Regions from separate parts of the Homo sapiens genome. Here all the other regions are linked to region 3. A link means that fine-mapping ties the variant in region 3 to the plasma level of a protein whose gene starts in the linked region. Region 3 holds a variant in brackets. A gene starts in each other region. All regions are shown on their reverse strands.

What was found. A credible set is the group of variants that fine-mapping cannot tell apart. PIP is the posterior inclusion probability: the model's chance that the variant is causal. Protein levels are from antibody-based Olink assays in UK Biobank. Linkage for the fine-mapping came from a reference panel and not from the study's own genotypes, which makes the PIPs less certain.
Region 1: CCL18 starts here. The variant in region 3 is the best candidate, but not a certain one, in a credible set for the plasma level of the CCL18 protein (UK Biobank, PIP 0.89).
Region 2: it holds the start of CRISP2, and the variant in region 3 is the best candidate, but not a certain one, in a credible set for the plasma level of the CRISP2 protein (UK Biobank, PIP 0.87).

The regions. Positions count from the first base shown.
Region 1 is chr17:36,061,226-36,069,225 of GRCh38, reverse strand. CCL18 (C-C motif chemokine ligand 18) reads right to left here and starts at 4,954. Exons shown (of 3, transcript NM_002988.4): 1 at 4,817-4,954. The coding sequence starts at 4,883.
Region 2 is chr6:49,708,755-49,717,946 of GRCh38, reverse strand. It overlaps CRISP2 (cysteine rich secretory protein 2), which reads left to right and starts at 4,404. Exons shown (of 10, transcript NM_003296.4): 1 at 4,404-4,472; 2 at 5,343-5,446; 3 at 6,626-6,662; 4 at 8,742-8,816. The coding sequence starts at 8,751.
Region 3 is chr19:58,347,502-58,352,910 of GRCh38, reverse strand. It overlaps A1BG (alpha-1-B glycoprotein), which reads left to right. Exons shown (of 8, transcript NM_130786.4): 4 at 356-628; 5 at 1,224-1,520; 6 at 2,260-2,541; 7 at 5,271-5,409. A1BG-AS1 (A1BG antisense RNA 1) reads right to left here and starts at 941. Exons shown (of 4, transcript NR_015380.2): 1 at 1-941. RefSeq lists enhancers at 4,820-4,899, 5,116-5,409 and a silencer at 5,090-5,409. The variant T/C (reference allele first, on the strand shown) is at 2,469.

The DNA of each region.
Region 1 (8,000 bases), not on the chromosome of region 3:
CTCCCATTGAGCAGAACCTTCTGATAGCCTCCCCAGCTGTTCCAACAGCATAGATGTACCATGGACATCAGAGCCAGGCATGGTGGCTCATGCCTGTAATCCCAGCATTTGGAGAGGCCAAGGTGGGAGGATTGCTTGAAGCCAAGAGTGTGAGACCAACCTGAGCAACATAGTGAGACCCTGTCTCTATAAATTTTTTTTTTTTTAAAGTAGCTGGGCATGCCTGTAGTTTCAGCTTCTTTGGACGCTGAGGCAGGAGGATTGCTTCAGCCCGGAAAGTCAAGCCTACAGTGAGCTCTGATCATGCCACTGCACTCCAGCCTGGGCAACAGAGTAAGACTTTGTCTCAAATAAATAATTAGGTAAATAAATAAATTTAAACAGGTGGTCCTCCCTGAGTTTGTTTAACAGCTCAGTTGTGTCATCAAGAACTCAGGCTTCTTAAAACATCTCCCCTTCCCCCACCATTTTGTTGGCTTTTCTTATTTGAGCTTGTCACCTCGTGGTCCCAAAATGGCCGCTGCTTTCTCAGTCATCACATCCTCATAATGTCTCATCCACAAGCATACGAGGGAGTCTCATAGGAGTACAGGAAGAGCAATGTTACTAGTGTTTTTAGTTCAAATAGCTTTTTATATGATTTGTTATGTGAACTATAGATTACACCAAAAAGCAGTAAAGCTAATTTTGAAAACACATAAAATACAGAAAAGAATAAAAACTCATTTAGAATCTCAAAGCTGGGTAGGCAGCAGGCAAACGGAGGCAGGAATGTGAGAGTTTTTTTCTACATTCCCTATTGTGGCATATGTGCATTCTGATGCAAAACCTGAAAAAAAAATTTCATTGAAGGTAGGAAAAATTCTAGTACCCAAACCTAGCCACTTTTTTTTTTTAAAAAACAGTTTGGTATATTTCTTTCCAGTGCAGTTTTTTTCTAGGCTTATGATAGTACTGTTTGCTCATTTGCTTTTTTCCTTCTTCTTACTGTGTCTGGTGGGGGAAGACATTACTGTTGTCATGATACAGGTTTTAATTTTGTATTTTTTTATTTATACAGCCATGCATCACTTAATGACAAAAATACATCTGAGGAACTTGTCATTAGTCTGTTTTGTTATTGTGGGAATATCATAGACTTACACAAACCTAGATGGTGTAGTCTACCGTACACCTTCACTGTATGGTACAGCCTGTAGCTCCTAGGCTACAAAGTTGTACAGCATGCCACTGTACTGAATACTGTAGGCAACTGCAATGCAATGTTAAGTATTTGCATATCTAAACATATCTAAACATAGAAAAGGTATAGTACAAATACAGAATTATAATCTTATGGGACCACCACTGTATAATATATGCAGTTTGTCATTGACCAAAGCATTGTTATGCAGCATATGACTGTGCTTAATATTAAAAGACTTTTCCAAATCATTCCAGTATTTTTAAGAACTGCCTAATTTACTTAAGCCTAGTGCATTAATATTGTCATGCACTACTGTAACATATGTGGGTTGGTTTCAATTTTTCCTTTTTTTTTAGATGGAGTCTCACTCTGTTGCCCAGGATGGAGTACAGTGGTGTGATCCCAGGTCAATGCAACCCCCACTTCCCAGGTTCAAGCGATTCTCCTACCTCAGCCTCCTGAGTAGCTGGAACTACAGGCGTGCACCACTATGCCCAGCTAATTTTTGTATTTTTAGTGAAGATGAGGTTTCACCATGTTGGCCAGGCTGGTCTCGAACTCCTGACCTCAGGTGATCTGCTTGCCTCGGCCTCCCAAAGTGCTAGGATTACAGGTGTAAGCCACTGCACCTGGCCAATTTTTCATTGTTATAAGTTGTGCCAAACATCTGTATGCAAAAAACTTTCTCCATAAGTGAGGTTATTTCTGTAGGATATTTTCCTAGCTGTGGGCTTCCTGGGTGAAAAAATAAGGGCATCTAAGGCTCCTGATCTATATAGACACCCCATATGTCATGCATATTCATGTCTATTACCCAGAGTCAAACCCAATGATGGCATATTGTAGGGAGCTATGAATGTTCAATGAATCAAACAGCAGTTAAAAGCCTGGCCCCATCATTCTTGTCATTCCCATAGTCCAGACTTTCCCTATTCCATTCTGTCCATTTGGGTCTGGATCAAACACAACTCGAACTACTTAAGATTCTGGGGTATCATCTTACATGTCACTTCTGTGCAATGGAAACACAACACTAGAAATATCTGTTCCATAGGAGGAAATGACCATGGTGCCATTCACAAATAGATCTGTTCTTGATAGAAGGTACCAGCTAAGCTTGGCTTCTTGGTAACACCAATTCTTGACGTCCTCCTCATGAGTTAAGCATTTCTTAGAAGCACTCCGATTAACACGATGTAATGGTCCTTTTCACCCAGGGTGTGGTTTAAATGTGACTTGTGCTGCCCAGAACGCTGTGGCATGACCATTTACATCACACCATGTGGTCAGAGGAGCTGCAGCACAGCATTAGAGAGCTGCTCTGTGGTGGAAGTGTTAATCTGAAGATCTCTCCTTGTACGTATGACTTCAACACTAACATCTCACCCTCTCTCACTGTCAAAAACATTTCTGCACATTCAGCCCCAACAAGTGAGCAGTTGAGTTGCTCTTGTACATCCTGAACCCCTGGGGGACCCAAGGTACCCCAACATGTACAACTCAGAGCAAGACACCATGCACTTAACATCTTCCCCTCTGGTCATCCCCAGTCTCCAGCTCCTCATGGTTTAGAGTTGCCTGTAAAGGGTTGAGGACATGGCTTGGACCCCAGAACGATGTAGGTGGCAGTGAGTGCCCAGTCCTGTTTTGGCATTGCCTACACTCCTCTGCCTGCCCAACACTGAACAGGTCTTCTTTGGTGCCCTCCATCTCCTCTCCATGGCCCTCAGCTCACAAGTCTCATCTGTCCCGTGAGACTCTCTTGACCCTTGTCCTTTCTTCATTTTAGAGTTGTTTCCCTATGCTCTGGACAGACATTTAAGCCATATCACTTAATTCTTGTGGATTAAGATTCTCTAAGTAAAATCAAAGAACTTCACAAAAGGTTTCAAAATGTTCTGGGCTATTTTCTGAGGACTTAGATATCTAACCTAGATCTGAAAGGCAGGAGAGGGCTAGGACCCATTGTTAGTTGGGAAAACTGGGGCCTAACTCAGTCATTCACAAGATGCAAACTCTGGGTCTAGTTGGTTCCTAGGGTGAGGAAGTGGCAGAGTTCCTTCAGTTCTCCTGAGAAGCTCTACTCCTACAGCGATTTAGAGACGATGGTCTCTTGCTGGGAAAAGTCTCTGTAGACTGAATGAAGTTCCTACCCAAAAGAGATGGAACAAAGGCCAGCCATTCCAAGAGCTATACTCCCTGAAGAGGGAGCAAGGGAGTGAGAGTAAGACAGAGGCAGAGATTTAAAAGAAACACTCAAAGTCAAGGATGAATGCCTGACTTCCTTAGTTCCTTTTGTGCCCTACTTCACAGTCCTGAGCAGTGAGGTCTTCATCAACTTCTTGCTGGTCCCTTTTCAAGAGTGGAAGAAATTTACTTGGTTTTTCTCAGGTTCTGGATGCTGGTTCCCTCACGGTTAAGGCACCCCATTGTCTCCTGCCTCTCTTATGTTTCTCCATATCCACTGCAAATTTGCTGACTCCAGCAGCTGGTGCTCTTACCCTGGCGTAATGTCAGCATCAGTCCTTCTGTCTGCAAATAGGGCATATGGAGGAGACAACCCATGGGACAAGGGACAAGGAGCACGTAAGCACAAGTAGGAGGTGGGAGCTACTATGGACTTTCATATCCAGTGTGAAGGTAAAATGAAGGTAAAATGAAGACATTTCCAAGCAAGCAAAAAATGGAGACTTCACTATCAGAAGACCCACAGTAATGAAAATACTAAGAGGATTCCTTTAGGCAGAAGAAAAGTGATTGCAGATGGAGCTCAGAGATGCAGAAGAATTTAAGAGGACAGGAAGAGCAAATATGTGATGAAAACTAAATGAATATTGACTGTATAAAGTAATTAAAATATATCATAGGATTTTAATTTTAAGACCGCTCACCACTGGTTTTATAATAGGCAACCGAAAATTTGCAGTGCATCTACTGGGAGGTGTAGGAGAAGCAGCAGATGCATGGGGTGTGAATCTTATCTGAGGGAACAAAGACAACAGGAGTTGCTCAGGAGAAGAAGCCCAGGCGGGTCACAAAGGAGCAAAGGGAGACAGCATAGCTCAGAGTTGAGGCCTGCAGGAAAAGAAAGCTGGAAATAATCTGGCTTTTTGTTTGTTTCTCCTTAATTTCCCTAGTCTTGTCTCTCCATTTTAGTCTTTATTTTACGCTACAGGGAATCAAGCTCCCTGAATAGTCTATGCCCTTCTCCTAACTCTCCTTGGGGAATTTTTTTTCTAATAGATTAAATCACAAGATAGCTGAGAAAAGTATAGACATCTTTTATGTTACCCAAGGGGTTGAACTCTAGGAGACTGCTGAGGTCATTGTAAAACTTACCAGCACCAGTGAGAACTAAATAGACCTAGATTCTACCTCACGCTAATAACCCAATGAATTAGACTTCAACCATCTCATTTATCTCAGTAGGATAAAACTTCTCTGACTCCCATCCTGCTGCCCAGATCAATAGACTGCTTTTCAACCTTCTTGAAGAAAACAATGATGTCACTTTGAAACCCCATTTGAGGATCCCTAATTTCACACGAGGGTTTTCAGGCCACAGCACTTGGAAGATGTCGCCTGACTTCTGCCCAGGGAGCCATCAAAGCACATGGATGACAGACTCACCTTGTGCACAGGAGCAGAGGGCCATGGTGCAGACGAGGACAAGGAGGGCAGCTGCAAGGCCCTTCATGATGCTGGGCAGGCAGAGAAGTGGTCAGAGTGAGCTGGGGCTTGGAAACTCACAACTCCTGGCCTCCTTCTGGGGTATGAGCTGTTGTCTCTCCTTTTTATAGGCAGACTGGACCATGGGAACATTGGAGGTGCTGATGCAAGACATTTTAACTATGGTGGTGTCATGTGAGTTCTCAGCCCAGGGTTGCCTATGGTTACTTGAAAGGTTTAGGGTACACAAACGAGTGGTTCACTTGTTGATTGAGGGGCTTATGGAGAAGTTGTATCTCCAGATGGGTGACCAGGAGTTGGAAGCACCCAGGGATTATGCTTAGGATTATGCATAATCATGTGATTATGTTTTCACATGACAGATATTTCTCAGAAATGAGTGGTCACAGCCTCCTTTGATAGAGCAGAATGCTTTAATGGATTTTCACAATTGTTTTTCCTTTTAAGAGAGTCACATGCTTCAATCTTTTATATACAGTTAGGCCTTTCGTGATCTAATGAGAAATCTTCCCCTATCCTAAGGCAATAAAGATATCCTCCTATGTTAACTTGTAGAAGCTTTATTGTTTTAGCATTAATATTTAAATTACAATCCATCTGGAGTTGATTTTTATGTTTGGTGTGAAGAAGGATTCAAGATTTATTTTTTGCCACATGAATACCCAATGGACCTTGGCAACTCATTGGTAAGACCATTGTATAAGTCAGGATTCCCCAGAGACACAGAACCAATGGTGTGTGTATAAAAAATAAGAAATTAGAGAATTGGCTCATTTAATTATGAAGGCTGACAAGTTCCAAGATCTGCAGGGTGAGCTGGCAAGCTGGAGACCCAGGAGAGCTGCTAGTGTAGTCCCAGTTTGAGTTCAAAGACCTGAGAATGGGCAGGCTTAAGGCCCAGGAAGAGATGATGTTTCAGTTTAAGTTCAAAGGCAGGAGAAAAACCTATGTCCCAGTGTGAAGGCAATCAGGCAAGAGGAATTCCCTCTTACAGGCAGGAGGGTCAGGCTTTTTGTTGTATTCAGAACTTCAACTAATTGAATGAAGCCCACCACATTAGAGAGGGCAATCTGCTTTACTCGGTTTATTGATTTCAATGATTTTGTGGTCTGCTTTTGGAATTTCTGTTCTGTTCCAATGGTTTATTTTCCTATCCTTGTGCTAATACATTATGTTAATTTGTTTTTCACTTTGAAGGAGATATCCCTGTATGCCCCTGACAACTGGACTCATAAAACCTTTCCTGAAATGACAAGTCCATAAATAGTTAAAAGATTTATCTCCCACCTCATGGAATACATACGTTTTTTTCTTTGTATTTTTCTTTCTTTCTTTCTTTTTGTTTTTGAGATGGAGTTTCGCTCTTGTCATCTAGGTTGGAGTGCAATGGCGCAATCTCGGCTCACCGCAACCTCCACCTCCTGGGTTTAAGCGATTCTCCTGCCTCAGCCTCCTGTGTAGCTGGGATTACAGGCATGTGCCACCATGCCTGGCTAATTTTGTATTTTTAGTAGAGATGGGGTTTCTCCATGTTGGTCAGGCTGGTCTTGAACTCCCGACCTCAGGTGATCCACCCGCCTCAGCCTCCCAAAGTGCTGGAATTACAGGCATGAGCCACCGCACCCAGCTGGAATACATATGTCTTACAGAGTGTCCAACATATGGCCACTTCTTGTCTATCATGCCCTATCAACATGATGTCACCAATGTAATGGATCAATGTGTTGTTTTGAGAGATACATGAAAATTCAGATCTCTTCAGACTACAGTATGCAGAAGATGAGAGTTAATAGTCTACAGGAAAACTGTAAGTGAATATTTTCCATTCTTATGAATGGGAACTTTTTCTTATCCTCTTTCCTACTTGTTATGGGACAGAATGCATTTGCCAAATCAATAGGTACATAACATGTACTTAATACCTGGCATGTGTCAGTACCTGGTTATAGAAGCTGCAATCAGGTTACTACCTGGTTGAGCTCACAGTGTTCTACAGTCATTCTCTAGGATCCATCCAGTTTCTGCAGAAGCCAGACTTGCAAATTAAATAGATATGATAATAACCATTTTCCTTGCATTTTTTGTATCCTTAAGGGTGGCATTAGTCTCCACCATCCCCTCCACTAGATTGCAATATTGTTTCTAATCTACTCTTTTTTCCTGGGAGAAGGGGGCAGTTTCAGAGATTTCCACTTCACCTTCCCTCTAGAGATGCTTGTTCTATTAACCATTGCCACAACTCTCCATGGGTCAAGACCCCTTGATTGTCACTCCAACCTTGCTGGCTATAACGATATTTAGAACCCCTTGGCTTCTGTTTGTTAAATGCTGCTACCTAGCCTCCACTGTTTCAAGGCAAGAAAGCTCCACTGCTTCAAGGAGAGAGGGCCCCACTGCTTCAAGGAGGAAGAGCTATCAATGGGCCAAGTTTTGTGACAGCCACTCTTACCATCAGCCCTAGCCTATAAAGAAGGCGGGACCACTAACTTCTTAGAAATGCTGGTGCTCCTCTCACCAGGGAGTCCTGGTGGCTTTGGTGAATAGTGCATTCCCATGGAACATAATCTGGTGAGTCTTCTGGCCTCATGTAATGTATCCACTCCAGCATGACCACTTCCATGACTCTTTTAATCCCTTCCTTCTCCATCTGTCATGGCAATTCGGGTATTTTAACTTCACTCGGCATGAGCCATTGCTTTCTCAGGCTTCTGGAGCCTTTCTGACAACAAATCTGTACCAACCCCTGGGGTCCTTCTCAAGAGGTTACAGCCTATATCCGGAAAGAATACTCCCAAGTCAGTAAGTTGTCTCTTATCGAGGCTTATATTCCAACTCCTTTTATCAAGCACCTCAAAATCCAAACCCAAGTCTACTTCCCCTGCTCAGGCTGACACATGCTTGCTAAATTCTGCTAGTGCTTTAGAGTATAGTCCCTTTTCTCCCTTATTAGGAATATAATTTATTGACACAAGAATGTGTTACCAGAAGATATGGAAAATATGAATGGTTTCATTTCCACTAAGGAATTAAATCAATAATTAAAAACCATGGTTAGAAAACATCTTCATACCTAGCTGGTTTCATAAGCAAGTTCTACCAAACATTTATGGAAAAAATAATGGAA
Region 2 (9,192 bases), not on the chromosome of region 3:
TAGTTAACTTAGGACAATTTTGCTTATTCTGCTTTACTGTTTTAAAATATCTTGCTGTTGTGCTCTTTGTGTAGGAATAGAGGATAAACTTACTCAACTTTTTAAAAAAATCTTCCAGATATCACCTTTTCTTGGAACTTAAGAGTTATGAATGGCCTTCATCATACTAATGCATTCTGACTGAACTCCTCTGTACCCTGAACACAAGAGACCCTAATAGTTACACAGAAATATCATTGCCCCATTCAGCCTGAAGAAGTTAAAGAAGATGAATCTTCATCCTTCTGCAACTGTTAGGATTAAGGGTTCTTTTATAAAAGGGAGAGGAGAAATGTCAGAGGAATGTGAACCGGAGCAACTCCATCTTAAATAGGGGCTGGGTAAAATGAGGCTGAGACCTACTGGGCTGCATTCCCAGACAGTTAAGGCATTCTAAGTAAAAGGATAAGATAGGAGTTTGGCACAAAATACAGGTCATAAAGACCTTTCTTGTAAAACAGTTTGCAGTAAACAAGTCAGCTAAAACCTACCAAAACCAAGATGGCAACAAGAGTGACTGCTGGTCGTCCTCACTGCTACACTTCCACAAGGGTTGTGACAGTTTACAAATGCCATGGCAATGTCACGAAGTTACCCTATATGGTCTACAAAGGGGAGACATGAAAAATCCACCCTTTGTTTCGTATATAATCAGAATAACCATAAAAATTGGCAACCAGCAGCCCTTGGGGCTGCTCTGCCTATGGAGTAGCCATTCTTTCCTCTAACAATTTGACCTTTTGACTTGGGGTTTTATATGTTGGCATACTTCCAGGGTCTTGCATTACTCTTCCCTTGGATTAGGCCATCTGCATGTGCAGTAGCCTGCTAGCACTTGGGAGCAGCCTCATGCACAGTGTGTTTAATGGAGTTGTACACATGCTCACTTGAGAAATTTTTTCTGTACCAATACAGTGTTTCTAGAAGAAGTGTTTCCCCTTGATTTAGTTCTAGAAAGTCCTTTCGTTCTCTGCCTCTAGGCCCTATTCTCCTGCCTCAATTTCCCCCTGAAAGATGTGATCTCCATAAGTCTTTATGGGAGGTGGAACAACCGATGGTCTTTCTTCTGTAAATGCTTTATGACTGGTGTGGGGATCACAGACCTCTTGCCTTGCTCTCTCTAGTGAAGGAAGGGTAGCTCCTTGATGGCCAGGGGAGGCATCTTCACCTGGAACTGGCTGGAACCCTTGTCACATGATCATCTAAAGCTTAATCGTCTCTAGGCGAGAGGAAATGAATTGGGTTAAAGATTTAATGGGAATTTTAGGGGGTGGATACCTATTCTTTCAGCAATGTTTGTTATGGAAATTTGCAGGAGAAAAACAAAACCTGGTCTTTTCTAGGATCTATGTGTTTCCTTAATGTCTTAGCACAAGCGACTCTGTTTTGGTTTGGTTTGGTTTGGTCTTTTGGGGCCTAGTGCATGAACTCAGTCCAAAACAATTGCCTCCTATGCTTTTGCTTAAAAAGAAAATTCCCCCCTTTTTGATAAGGTTCTCACTTAGGTGAGAGTGTGACCAAAACTTAGGGCCTTAGCACCACTCTCAGTTACCATTATTTCGGGTTTCTGGTCTCACCACATCATTCATAGGTTATGGTGTCCTCATGGTCACACATTTCTTTCAGCTCTTGTCATTCTAATTGAAGAGAGACCATTTGACATTCTAGCAATGGCTGCGTGGAAGCACTTAAAACCTTTGAGAGAATACAGTGTACCAGGGAAACTATTATTATGACTATCGGGAGGATAATACCAAGAGTTTGGAGTATGCTCTTTACCCAGGTTACCCATAAACCAAACCACCTAAAATTAAATAGATCAAAAAATGAGCTAAAGAGTCTACTTACTTAACTAAGCAATCTCTTCATTTATCCTCTACAGCTAAATCTCTATAGTCTTCATCTGATGTATTTCTCCATAGGCCACAAGTGCCAGCAGCTGCACAGATACTTCTCTATTCAGCCAATTCTATCATAATTTTCACAAGAGAATTTAAAGTCTGGTATTTAACTATATCCTATACAGTAGAATCTGCTATAGAGCCTACTATGAGGAATGCATTTCTAATCATTGCTTCTTTTACTCCAAACCATAGAAAAAGGAACTAACAAATGATGCCCTTCTAGAAAAGCAAAGGACTCCTGGCAATGTTCTTAGAAGTACCTGTACTATTCCTCTCAGTAATGGAGATCTACTTTCCATGTGCTCTCCAACACATTCAGGCACCAAACTTACAAGTCTTCTATTCTGGATTTGCCCTTCATACAAAATCTATCAACACTTTTTAAAAATCTCTTCATATTCCACCCTTTTGTCCTATTTCTACTACTACAAAATTAATCTGGGGAATTGTTACCACACTTATTTTTGCTGCCATCAATTTCTCAGCTCTGTAAATCACCCCATGCAGTGAGATCAGGTGGCTTTTATGAAACATTCTTTTGATCAAAGAATTTCCCAACCCTCCAAAATGTCAATGAAATTACTTTCCCATGTTATACAGAGAAGCAAATCTCCTTAGACTTCTATACAAAGTTTCCCCAACCTTTTCAACAGTCTTTCTGTCTTGAATATGCCTTGTGATATAATGATTTATCTGCTTTTGTTCTTCAACTCTTTCTCCCTTCAAATCAAGCCATACGCATTATTCAATAACAGTTCAAATGTCAAAACTTTCCTAGGTTTTACCCAGATCATATCAACTCACAGAACTCTCAATTACTGTATATATTTTTGGTCGCCCTACTTAGCATTAAACTACACTACCTAATAGTATTCTTTACTTATTCATATACATACTCCTTTCTCTCATAGTACTATGAGTCTTAGAAGAAAGAGATTTTATGTCCTTTTTTCTGTATTTTCTAAGAATCTATGTCGGGTCAATATTTACTCACTTAACAAATATTTACAAACTACCACCTATATTTGGTATTGTGTTAGTTTTGGAGATACAGCAATAATCAAGACAGACATAGCCAATTTCTGAAATTCAGGTTCACCAACAATATCTGGCACCACAGCGCTCAAGTTGCTCTCATTCTGATATCATCAATGTGAATATGGGAACAAGTAATAATTACAGGAATGACTCTTCTCCAAAAATGAAAAATAAGATATTCACAGTAAATGATAGACTATTATAGTGCTGAGAATGAATTGTTCGGCACTAGAAAGAAAGAACAAATAGGTAGGCAGAGATTTTGTGCATATAGGTATTTGAAATGTCCAATTAATAACTTAAGCAAGATATGGTGAAAACATGAATATAGAAGTGAGGGACAGATTGAGGACTAGATTTCATAAATATTTAGAAAGGCAAACTGTCAGTAATGAATTTTGATATTGGATGTAGATATAAGCGTTAAGCAGTCTAAATTCCAAAATTTTTAGTCAGTGCTGCATGAACTGAAATAAGCAGCAAAAGAAAACTAAAACAATGTCTGTGTGCTGATCCCTTGAAATTACCTTGTAACACTGCCAAAGGAAAATGGCACTGAGCACCAAGTTTGTTATAGTTTCAGTTGTGCCCAAGTGAGTCTCCAGAGTTGGTGAAATCTCAAGCCTCTTATTGCATGGCTTACAGAGAACCAAGGTATGACGGATATTAATCCTTGGCTTGACATCTTTTGACCCATCTCTCTTCCTCTAGGTCATAAGCGAATTCACTCCTTTTCGCTTTGAAAACAACTGTGAATAGAAGAAAATGCACCTATTACTCATCCGCCTTCTGAGAGAGAAAACATGTCTTTAACCCATGCTTGATACGTATGCTAAACTTGCAGCCAGTAGCCTTGGGTCAGGAGTTCTGCGTATTTTCATAAGAGTTGTTCCTGTTACTCTTCGTGAATTTTCTCACCATAAAACTGTTGCCAACGGGGAAGAGGGACAAGAACATGAAGTGTTTATGAGGGAGCCTGAAACTGACAACCTGTGTAACTGGAGTGCGTCGTTGGCATGACACTGGCAGCGCACTGCAAACTTAAGCACCTGTGGACTCCTAATTAGCTCTTTAAATTGAACTACATTAATTCAGGCATTCTTGTTTGAATGCGAACGCCTCCTTTTTCAAGCCACCCCCTGGGCAACCCGAATCCTTATATGACCTCCCTCCTCCTCCTAGTACGGCGCAGGTATGCGAACAGACATTTTCTTTCCTCATCAACTGGTGGTAATGAGAAAAAGAGAACTCTGCTTTTCACAAGGGAAAACGTGCAAGATTTTCTCCGTAGTAGGGGAGGCGGGGGCGATGGGAGGAGAGCAGCTCACGTAGGCAGATAGCGGCGATGAAAGCATAAAGCCCAGTGACGTCGCCCACACGTGGCGCCTGGCAAGTGAACAATCGCGGTGAGAGGGGCGCGCCGCAGCTCCTCAACGCCGCAACGCGCCGGCCCAACTGCAGGAAGGTCTGTGCTCTGGAGCCAGGGTAAATGTAAGACCCGGATTGGAGACTAGAAATGGCTAGGGACGGGGAGGTGGGGTGAAGCACAGGGGAGAGAACCATCGTTGAGGTGAGGGGGTTTCTGATCCTCCTTCGCTCCTCTTCCGGCATCTGGAGGGCACATAGCTAATGCCGGGCAGACTGAGAGTTCAATTTTGTTGCTTAGCGCCGACCTACCATAACTTTCAACATGCTTCTCTATGTTTAGTCTATTGAAACTCTTTACCTACCTTAAAAGAGAAATCATTCTAAGTACATAAGACCCATTGAATCATAGTAGAAGCCTGAAGTCATTTCTCAATCTGCTTTTTACGAAGTCAAATTAAGACTCTTAGTTTCTAATTGATGTTTTGAATGTACAGTTATTAGAAACTGTAATAACAATTAGAGTTGGGGTCATTGACTCTGCTGGACTTTATATCATCTATTGGCTTCCAGAATTTAAAAAAAAAATGAAGAGACAAAGCTGTTACCCCCAAATCCACGTAGTTAATACTTACCATGTGGGACACTGCTTATGGAAATGATCTTTTAAAGAATGGGTTGAAGTCCTAGATAAGGGGTTGGGAGTCTTGAAAAAAGGTTGCAATTTTCCAAGCAAGTTAGCCAACTAGTAGTTACTGAACTTCAAGAAGTCCACTTTTTTGTTAGTGTTTGAAGGAAATATCAGGGCGTTGAAATACAATCTGACCTCAGAAGGACAATATGGTCTTAACGCTGAAATCAAATAAATACAGTAAATTATTAGAAACAATACTAAACAATTGAGTCAAAATTTAAGTTTGTGACAAAGATTATAGATACCATCTATAAGGGTATTCTTCACATCTTTATTTTAAATATTTTGTTTCCTTGTTCTAGGGTTATAAAATTATACACCATGGCCCTCCTAAAGACACTCTAGGAAAACCATGTCATCCTGATCTTAAAACACCTGCAAGAAAGAGCACAGTACTTCACCATTAGTAAGTAGCAAAGAAAAAAAATGGTAGCCAACTTTTCAACTATATATCAATATGGGTTTAAAGGAATAAAATGTAATTATATGGAATAGAAAAAAATATTTTTCCTTGAATATACTCTCACCAACAGTGACATTGCTTTCATTGACTCAATGAAGATGAGTATAGGTTAGATGGTTGAGGTTATGAGAGAGAAGAGCAGCAAAGAGGAGAGTATGGCATCATGGCCTATTATAGAATTCTGGCTCATCAGATGCATACACTGGGTGATTGAGCTATACAAAACTCTTCAGGCTCCTGTGTATGGCTTTCAATGAGCTGATGAGGATACAACAGCCCAGATGTTAGAGCATTTTCCTAAAGTCAGCCAGAAGGTGTCTAATAGAACCAGGCCTTGAACATGTGAATCTCGAATTAGATTATACTGATTGTATTTTCCTATAACACCTGGAAGGAAACACATGTCTCTTAAACACTTAGTAATTAGCAATTCAATCAAACAGCATATGTTTATAGAAAGCTCTTATGAGCTCAACAAACTAGCAGACATTGCAAAAGATAATAAAAACATGAATAATTTCCGTTTATTTGTATTATGTGCATAATGTGTTTATTGTATTAGAGGTGTTACATACATTGTCCCTTCCAGTCTTCAAAGCAAAAACCTGTGATATAAAAATCTACATTTTACATAAGAAAAACACTGAAGCTTGGCATAGATTTCCCAGACCTGATGGTTTCCAAAGAATGCACCCGTAACCAATAAGCTACAGGTAGTTGATAATTAGAAAGTAAAAATCATAGACAGCTGAACTATGAGAGTTCAGCTATAAGGCAGAATCCTGGTAACCTTCACAGTAGTTAACCTGTCTTGGGTTGTCAATATAGAAATACTAGTCCAAAAAGGCCACATGCAGATTATCGTGTGCCTAAGGAGAAGGGAGAACTGATTAGAAAGGGAGGGCATGATTTACTTACTCATGTTAAAAACTATGTGGGAAGCAAATAATGTCAAAAGCATTATCAGACAACTGACAATGAAGTTTAAGGTTACTGGTATGAAAAATACTACTTCAGAACTTTGTTGACTTAGATTTATTTAACAAAACCAGAGTTTGACAAAACAGGAATATGTGTAATATATATGCTGCTCTAAACCTTCCACCTTCTTTCTTTCTAAAGATAAAGTAGATATTTCATCCTGCTCAGAAAACCAACAGTAAGTGTTAAATCATTGATTTTAATGTGAATATTTTATCATGCCAATCATTTTTATGTTGTCAAGGGTAAAATGATTAATGAGTTTGCCCATGATTTTATTTTTTTGTTTTTTGTTTGTCTGTTTGTTTGTTTGTTTTAGAGACAGGGTCTCTTTCTGTCACCCAGGCTGGAATGCAGTGCTGTGATCATAGTTCACTGCTGCCTCAAACTCCTAGGCTCAAATGATCATCCCACCTCAGCCTCCTGAGTAGCTGGGACTACAGGCACTTGCCACCATGCCCAGCTAATTATGTTTTGTTTTTGTTTGTTTGTTTTTAGTAGAGATGAGGTCTCACTGTGCTTTCCAGGCTGATCTTGAACTCCTGGGCTCAAGTTATGTGCTCTCACCTCAGTCTCCCAAAATGTTAGGATTATAGGAATGAGCCACTGTGCCTGGCCTATCCATGATTTTCAAAACTTTAATAAATTTGTATTGAGAATGACCTCAAGTTAATTTTATTCTTTTACAGTTAAGAAGGTAAATTACAGCAATATTACGCACACACACAAAAAAATTTGATATGTAAAAATTTTTTACATTTTATTCTAAAAATAAGTAATGGAATTAATTCTCATGTTTGTGACTTGAGACAATTATACTAGAACTACCTTTAATAGGAAAATGGAAAAGTATGGCTGTTTAAGTATATTGTATAAGCTGGCATATTAATGATTTTACTATTAACATATACAGTTATGTATTAATAAGGGAATTATTAAAGTAAAAATAAAGGGTCTCCATTGTGCTGCAACAATGTCTGCCTTTTCCCAATTAAAACTGTGTCTCTTTCAATGAGTCAATGTCTCTTTCAAAGTCATTGACTTCGAAGTCATAATTGGATGAAGACTAATTTCTGACATTACCTAAGAACGTAGCATTGGCATAGGTTAATTAACTGTCTTAAGCCTCAATTACATCATCCATACAATATAAATAGTAATACCCAGTAAGGTATGGGAGTGAAATTGTATATCATTTTCCATGAACCGTCAATAATTGTTCATCCCTCATCCCTTTTTTGCACATAATTGAGCATAAAGGCAATGGATGGAACAAGTATCAATGATACACTATTTACAGTAAGTGAAGCCTGAGAAGCATCACAGATAAATTGTTCGGAATTTTCTTTCTTTCCAAGAATTTGGGAGTGACAGTCTCACACACAAGAAACAAATCTAGGCAGCATAACTTTAATTTACAAATTAAACAATTTATATGACTAATGACAGAAAGGTGAGTGTTTCCAAAACTAAGTGGTCTTGTTGTTTCATCTGAAGGACGTGAGACTTTTTGACATATTGAGAAAGGACAACATGGGTAACAAAATGCTGAGTGTCTTTTTAGGAGATAATGAAAATACGAAACAATCTTCTTACCAAATAATGGATTGAGTAAACTTGAATAAGCTATATCTTCAATGCATTAATTGTATTTTTTGTATACAGAGAAATTTGAAAATATTCACAAGTATAAGGAAGAAAATAAACATAACTTCTAGTTACTCCATTAGGGAAATAACAGCTAATAAAGTATTTGCACAACCATATCTGTGTAATCACAACCTTGTCATCTTAATTAGAGTCTGGTATAAATAAAAGGACAAACCGTTTTACTTTTCGTATAGAATAGCCAATTGAGAGATGGTACATATTGAAAATAAACTTTCCTCCAAAAATTGAGATGAAGAATGAATGTCAGTACTATAATTAACTATTAAGGAATCTATTTTCTTTTTGATGGCGTAAGGGTAGCAGAAGTAGGCAGAAAGAAGGGAGTAGGTCTCTCTCTTTTATAGATGTACCTCAAGGGCATCAGTAGAGTTCTTCAGCTTTTTCTTTATTGTCACTATCAAAGACAAGGTTGGCCTCATTATGATTCTACTAGTACCATAGGGCAATTCTTCTTTTGTTCCATTGTTAATGAATCTGGGAATCACAGTTCCTTTGAGATAATCGAGATCATTATATTGGTATTCCCCCTCTTAGAAGTTTTTTAAACTACATATTTCAATGCAGACCTTTGTTTTTCTTGACTTAGTTTCCAGCAATGGCTTTACTACCGGTGTTGTTTCTGGTTACTGTGCTGCTTCCATCTTTACCTGCAGAAGGAAAGGTAAGGTTAAAATGGAAAATCTTTTCAGAGCTATCCAGCAACTTTGTGGTATGGCAGGCTATTCTGAAAGTAAAGGGGGGTAAGAGAGTTTGGTATGTCAGAGTTTCCACTGGTTCAGAGTTCTCAGAGCACTTAACACAATTATTGAGATGAAAGGCCAAGGTTATGCTGTATGTGTTCTGCATGTGTATGCTAGCCACCGGTCACATGTGACTACTGAACACTTGAAATGAGGTTTGAACAGGCAAAATGTACTCTGATGGTAAGAAACTCACTAGATTTCAAACATTTAGAACAAAGAAAGAAGGAAATATCTCATTTTTTTAATATTGCATCCATGATGAAATGATAATATTTTGGATATTCCATTAAATAA
Region 3 (5,409 bases):
TTGGGGGCCAGGAGGCAGTGGGTAGGTTGTTGACTGGGGGGTCTCCCTTCCTCCAAGTCACCCGATGTCTCTGAGCCCCAAGCCCCAATCTTCCCATCTGTCAAATGGGGATGATGTCTGTGTTGTAAGGAATACATGGTTGTGTCCCCAGCAGGCCCGGCATGCCGTACAGCTCCCACACACTCTTTTTCTCTTGCCGTATGCCTTGTTTCCACTGGTGCCTGCCTGCCTTTTCCCAGCAATGCCCTCCATCCCTGTCTCCTTCACAGTCTTATGAGTGTGGGGCCCAGGTTCTGCTGGGCTTCCCACGTCTCCTGTTATGCAGAAGCACTCTTCAACTCCACCCCACCCACAGAGTCCTTGCCTGCTCCCTGGCTCTCGATGGCGCCAGTGTCCTGGATCACCCCCGGCCTGAAAACAACAGCAGTGTGCCGAGGTGTGCTGCGGGGTGTGACTTTTCTGCTGAGGCGGGAGGGCGACCATGAGTTTCTGGAGGTGCCTGAGGCCCAGGAGGATGTGGAGGCCACCTTTCCAGTCCATCAGCCTGGCAACTACAGCTGCAGCTACCGGACCGATGGGGAAGGCGCCCTCTCTGAGCCCAGCGCTACTGTGACCATTGAGGAGCTCGGTGACTGTGGGAACCATCTCTGGGGGCTGCTGGGGGAGGAGGATACAGGGGGCATGACCACATTCATCCTGACCTCCATGCTGAATGTCCTTGCCCAGGACCAGGTCCAGGAAGCTGGCCACACGGTTGCCTGGGTCTGATGGTTGCAAAGGAGTTTGGGCAGAGGATGCCCAAAGAATGGAAGGGTGAGGCCGGGTGCGGTGGCTCACGCCTATAATCCCAGCACTTTGGGAGGCTGAGGCCAGCGGATCATGAGGTCAAGAGATCGAGACCAGTCTACCCAACATGACGAAACCCCGTCTCTACTAAAAATACAAAAATTAGCCAGGTGTGGTGGCAGGTGCCTGTAGTACCAGCTACTCAGGAGGCTGAGGCAGGAGAATCCCTTGAACCTGGGAGGCAGAGCTTGCAGTGAGCTGAGTGGCGCCACTGCACTCCAGCCTGGGCAACAAGAGCGAAACTCCGTTTCAAAAAAAAAAAAAAAAAAGAATGGAAGGGTGTTCCTGGGATTGCCACCCGGAGGGCAGAGGTCTGGGGACTGGGCAGAGGGCAGCTCCAGGGATGGGGCAGCCTAGTAATGCTGCCTGCATTGCAGCTGCACCACCACCGCCTGTGCTGATGCACCATGGAGAGTCCTCCCAGGTCCTGCACCCTGGCAACAAGGTGACCCTCACCTGCGTGGCTCCCCTGAGTGGAGTGGACTTCCAGCTACGGCGCGGGGAGAAAGAGCTGCTGGTACCCAGGAGCAGCACCAGCCCAGATCGCATCTTCTTTCACCTGAACGCGGTGGCCCTGGGGGATGGAGGTCACTACACCTGCCGCTACCGGCTGCATGACAACCAAAACGGCTGGTCCGGGGACAGCGCGCCGGTCGAGCTGATTCTGAGCGATGGTGAGCCGGGGCCAGCAGGGACAGGGACGCGGCTGGGTCCCTGGGGAGCAGGAGCAGTACCAGGTGTAGAGTCTGGGGAAGTGCAGTGCTCTGGGCCAGGGTCCAATACCAACTTTATCCGCCCACCCGCCGATTCAGGGTCCTAAACTGCAAATATGATGATGAGCGTGACAACCTTCAGGCCCCACAGGGAATAACTGGGTGAACAGGTCTGGCCCAGGCCACAGGGGGCACCACCTGGCAGGTCCCATCCCAGCTGCCAGGTCTAGGTGAGCACTGAGGGCCTCTGCTGAGGCAGCTCCTCCGCTCGCTTGCCTTGGACCTGATGGTATTTAGCAAACTCTGAGCACCGGACAGCGAACCCCATGCCCAGCGGACCACAGGGGCCCCTCCGTGGGGCGGGCATTGGGGCGGTGCTCAGAAGACGCTCGTGGAGCAAATCCACTACTGAGCGGCATCGTGCACCAGGCATCAAGCCATGCACAAAACATGTCCCCGTCCCCGCTTCCCGTCTGTGTCTGTAGACAAACAAATTACTAAGAAACAGTGAAAGGGTGCGTGTGAGATATCCAAGGACTGGGATGCAAAGGTGGGGCGGGCCCGGAGGAGGCGAGGGAGGAAGCTGGCCAGGTCATTGCGGGCAGAAGACTCAGCCAAGGCAAAGAGCGCGAGGCCAGACCACGCGTTAGGGCCGAGCCAGCCGCTGGGCGCCCGGGTCAGCCCGTGTGCTGCTCCGCAGAGACGCTGCCCGCGCCGGAGTTCTCCCCGGAGCCGGAGTCCGGCAGGGCCTTGCGGCTGCGGTGCCTGGCGCCCCTGGAGGGCGCGCGCTTCGCCCTGGTGCGCGAGGACAGGGGCGGGCGCCGCGTGCACCGTTTCCAGAGCCCCGCTGGGACCGAGGCGCTCTTCGAGCTGCACAACATTTCCGTGGCTGACTCCGCCAACTACAGC[T/C]GCGTCTACGTGGACCTGAAGCCGCCTTTCGGGGGCTCCGCGCCCAGCGAGCGCTTGGAGCTGCACGTGGACGGTGAGCTGGCGGGGCACCAGCGAGGGCGGGCGCGGGTTCAGTGCCCCTCGGGGCCTCCTGTCTTTCCCCTCTTTCCTTGGGCGTCCGACGGCGGCGCTCTGGGCCTTGGTTCAGCCCCCATCGCCTACCCCGGCGGGGAGCAGGCGATCGGTGGTCGAGGGTCTGGGGACGCCTGGAATTTCGGCTTATTTCCCACGGACGCAAGCCCGTAGGTCACGTGTAGCGTGGTGGTCGGCAGCAGGGAGGCTGGCCCCAGGTTTTCTTGTTCAGATCCCTGCAGCTCTGTGGCTGCCTTGTTTTATTACTGGCCATGTCAGTCGTCATACTGGACCCCCCGCCCCGGCCCCGGTCCCGCAGGCGCACGGCTGATGTGTCCTTCTCCCCATCCCCGCCGTCCCCAGCTCTGTTTGTCCCTCTGATTTCCTCATCGACGTCTCCAGGACTCAGAGCCCAGCAGAGCGTGAGGGCACAGGTCTGACCTCCAGATCTTGAGGTCGTACCCTTTGCTGGGAGCACCGTTTTCTCTTTTCTTTCACTTTCTTTCTTTTCTTTCCTGCCTTCCTTCCTCTTTCTTTCTTTCTCTTTCCTTCTTTCTTTCTTCCTTCCTTCTTTCTCTCTTTTCTTTCTTCTTTTTTCTTCTTTCTCTCTCTCTCATCTCTGCCCCCCAACCCCATCTCTCTCCTTCATTCCTCCCTTTTCTTCTCCTTTTTGTTTTTTTTTTGGATAACTTACTTTTATTCTTGCAGGCCGGAGTGCAGTGGTGCAGTCTCAGCTCACTGCAACTTTCGCCTTCTGGGTTCAGGCAGTTCTCCTGCCTCAGCCTCCTGAGTAGCTGGTATTAGAGGCGCATGCCACCATGCCCACCTAATTTTCGTATTTTTAGTAGAGACCGGGTTTTGCTATGTTGGCTGGGCTGGTCTTGACCTCCTGACCTTGTGATCTGCCCGCCTCTGCCTCCCAAAGTGCTGGGATTACACTTGTGAGTCACCATGCCCAGCCTATTCTTGCAGTGTTATAAGCCACCATCCACAATTGATGAAAAATGTTTAATCTTGGCCAGGCAAGGTGGCTCACGCCTGTAATCACAGCACTTTGGGAGGCCAAGGCGGGTGGATCACAAAATCAGGAGTTCAAGAGCAGCCTGGCCAACATGGAGAAACCCTGTCTCTACTAAAAATACAAAATTAGCCAGCTGTGGTGGCACATGCCTGTAATCCCAGCCACTTGGGAGGCTGAGGCAGGAGAATTGCTTTAACCCGGGAGGTGGAGTTTGCAGTGAGTCCAGGTCATGCCACTGCATTCCAGCCTGGGCAACAAGAGCAAAACTCCATCTCAAAAAAAAAAAAAATGTTTAATCTTTAAATTGTACATCTATATCCTATGACTCCAAATTTTATTTATCACTCTCCTTAAAGTCTGAAGAAAATGATTAATTTACTAAGCTCCAAAGACAACACAGTCCCACTGACATAACATTTAGTATGATGTCCTACTCTCCTGTTAGAATTAAGAACAGCCAGTATCAAACTGGCCTGAAATCTGATTGGGTTCCTGGGCTCAGAATAACTGTAGTAAATTTGTAAATCCACACTAAGACACAAAATTAAACTAGGATGTGTATATCTATCTTACAAGAAAACGTTTCACAGTAAAAATTAACATTATGATTTTACCAAATTTCAACATTATAGTTTGTTAATCCAATCAAGCTTTCAAAATTCCTGATTAGCTTACAATTAATTGCAAATAACTTCATGTAGTTTGGCTAGCATTTCAAAATGGATAGGGAATATAACTTTTAAAATGCGAAAGTATATTATACATATTGCACTTTTCTGCTAGGCTGGGCTAGTATCTTCCATGGCAAGATACTCAAACTATTGAATAAAATACACATTTAAATCAAGCACTTACATGTACTTCATTAATTTCCCTGAAATTATCAACAGCATTACCAAAATCTTCCAGGATTTTGTAACATTTGATTCCTTACAGTTTTGTTTTGTTTGTTTGTTTTTGAGACGGAGTGTCACTCTGTCACCCGGGCTGGAGTGCAGTGGCGCAATCTTGGCTCACTGAAACCTCTGCCTCCCAGGTTCAAGCAATTTTCCTGCCTCCACCTCCCGAGTAGCTGGGATTACAGGCGCACGCTGCCACGCCCGGCTAATTTTTTGTATTTTAGTAGAGACGGGGTTTCACCGTGTTACCCAGGCTGGTCTGGAACTCCTGAGCTCAGGCAATCCGCCTGCCTCGGCCTCTCAAAGTGCTGAGATTACAGGTGTGAGCCACTGCGCCCGGCACCTTAAATACACTTTTAAAGTTAAACTTATGGAGGGAAAACCCTCATCTATTGACATAGATTGTATGTCCTTTTTTGGTCCCTCCATGAAGGAGCACCGTTTTCTCCATCATTTCTTCTTCCCTTCACCCGTCAGAGTGACCGAGGCTGGGGACCCCAGAAGCCCCAGAGCAGGCCCGAATCTGGGACTTCCACGGTCCTGGGGGAGGGGTGCGGGGACACTCACGTGTGGCGCGGATGTCCGGGGTGTGAAGGCAGCGGGCGCAGCTCGGCGGCGCCGGAGGAGCCCTCTGCGCCCAGGAACAAGACAGGGAAGATGAAGCCGGGGCTGAGGCGCAGGCGCGGGCGCGGCCTGGGGTGTGGCCTGGGGTGTGGCCTGGGGCGTGGCCTGGGGCGTGGCCTGGCCCGACCACCCGCCCGCTCCGCCCAGGACCCCCTCCCAGGCCTCAGCTCCGGGCGACGTGGAGTGGGGCGGTCCTGGCGGGCCGAGATGCCGTCCTGCGCTGCGAGGGACCCATCCCCGACGTCACCTTCGAGCTGCTGCGCGAGGGCGAGACGAAGGCCGTGAA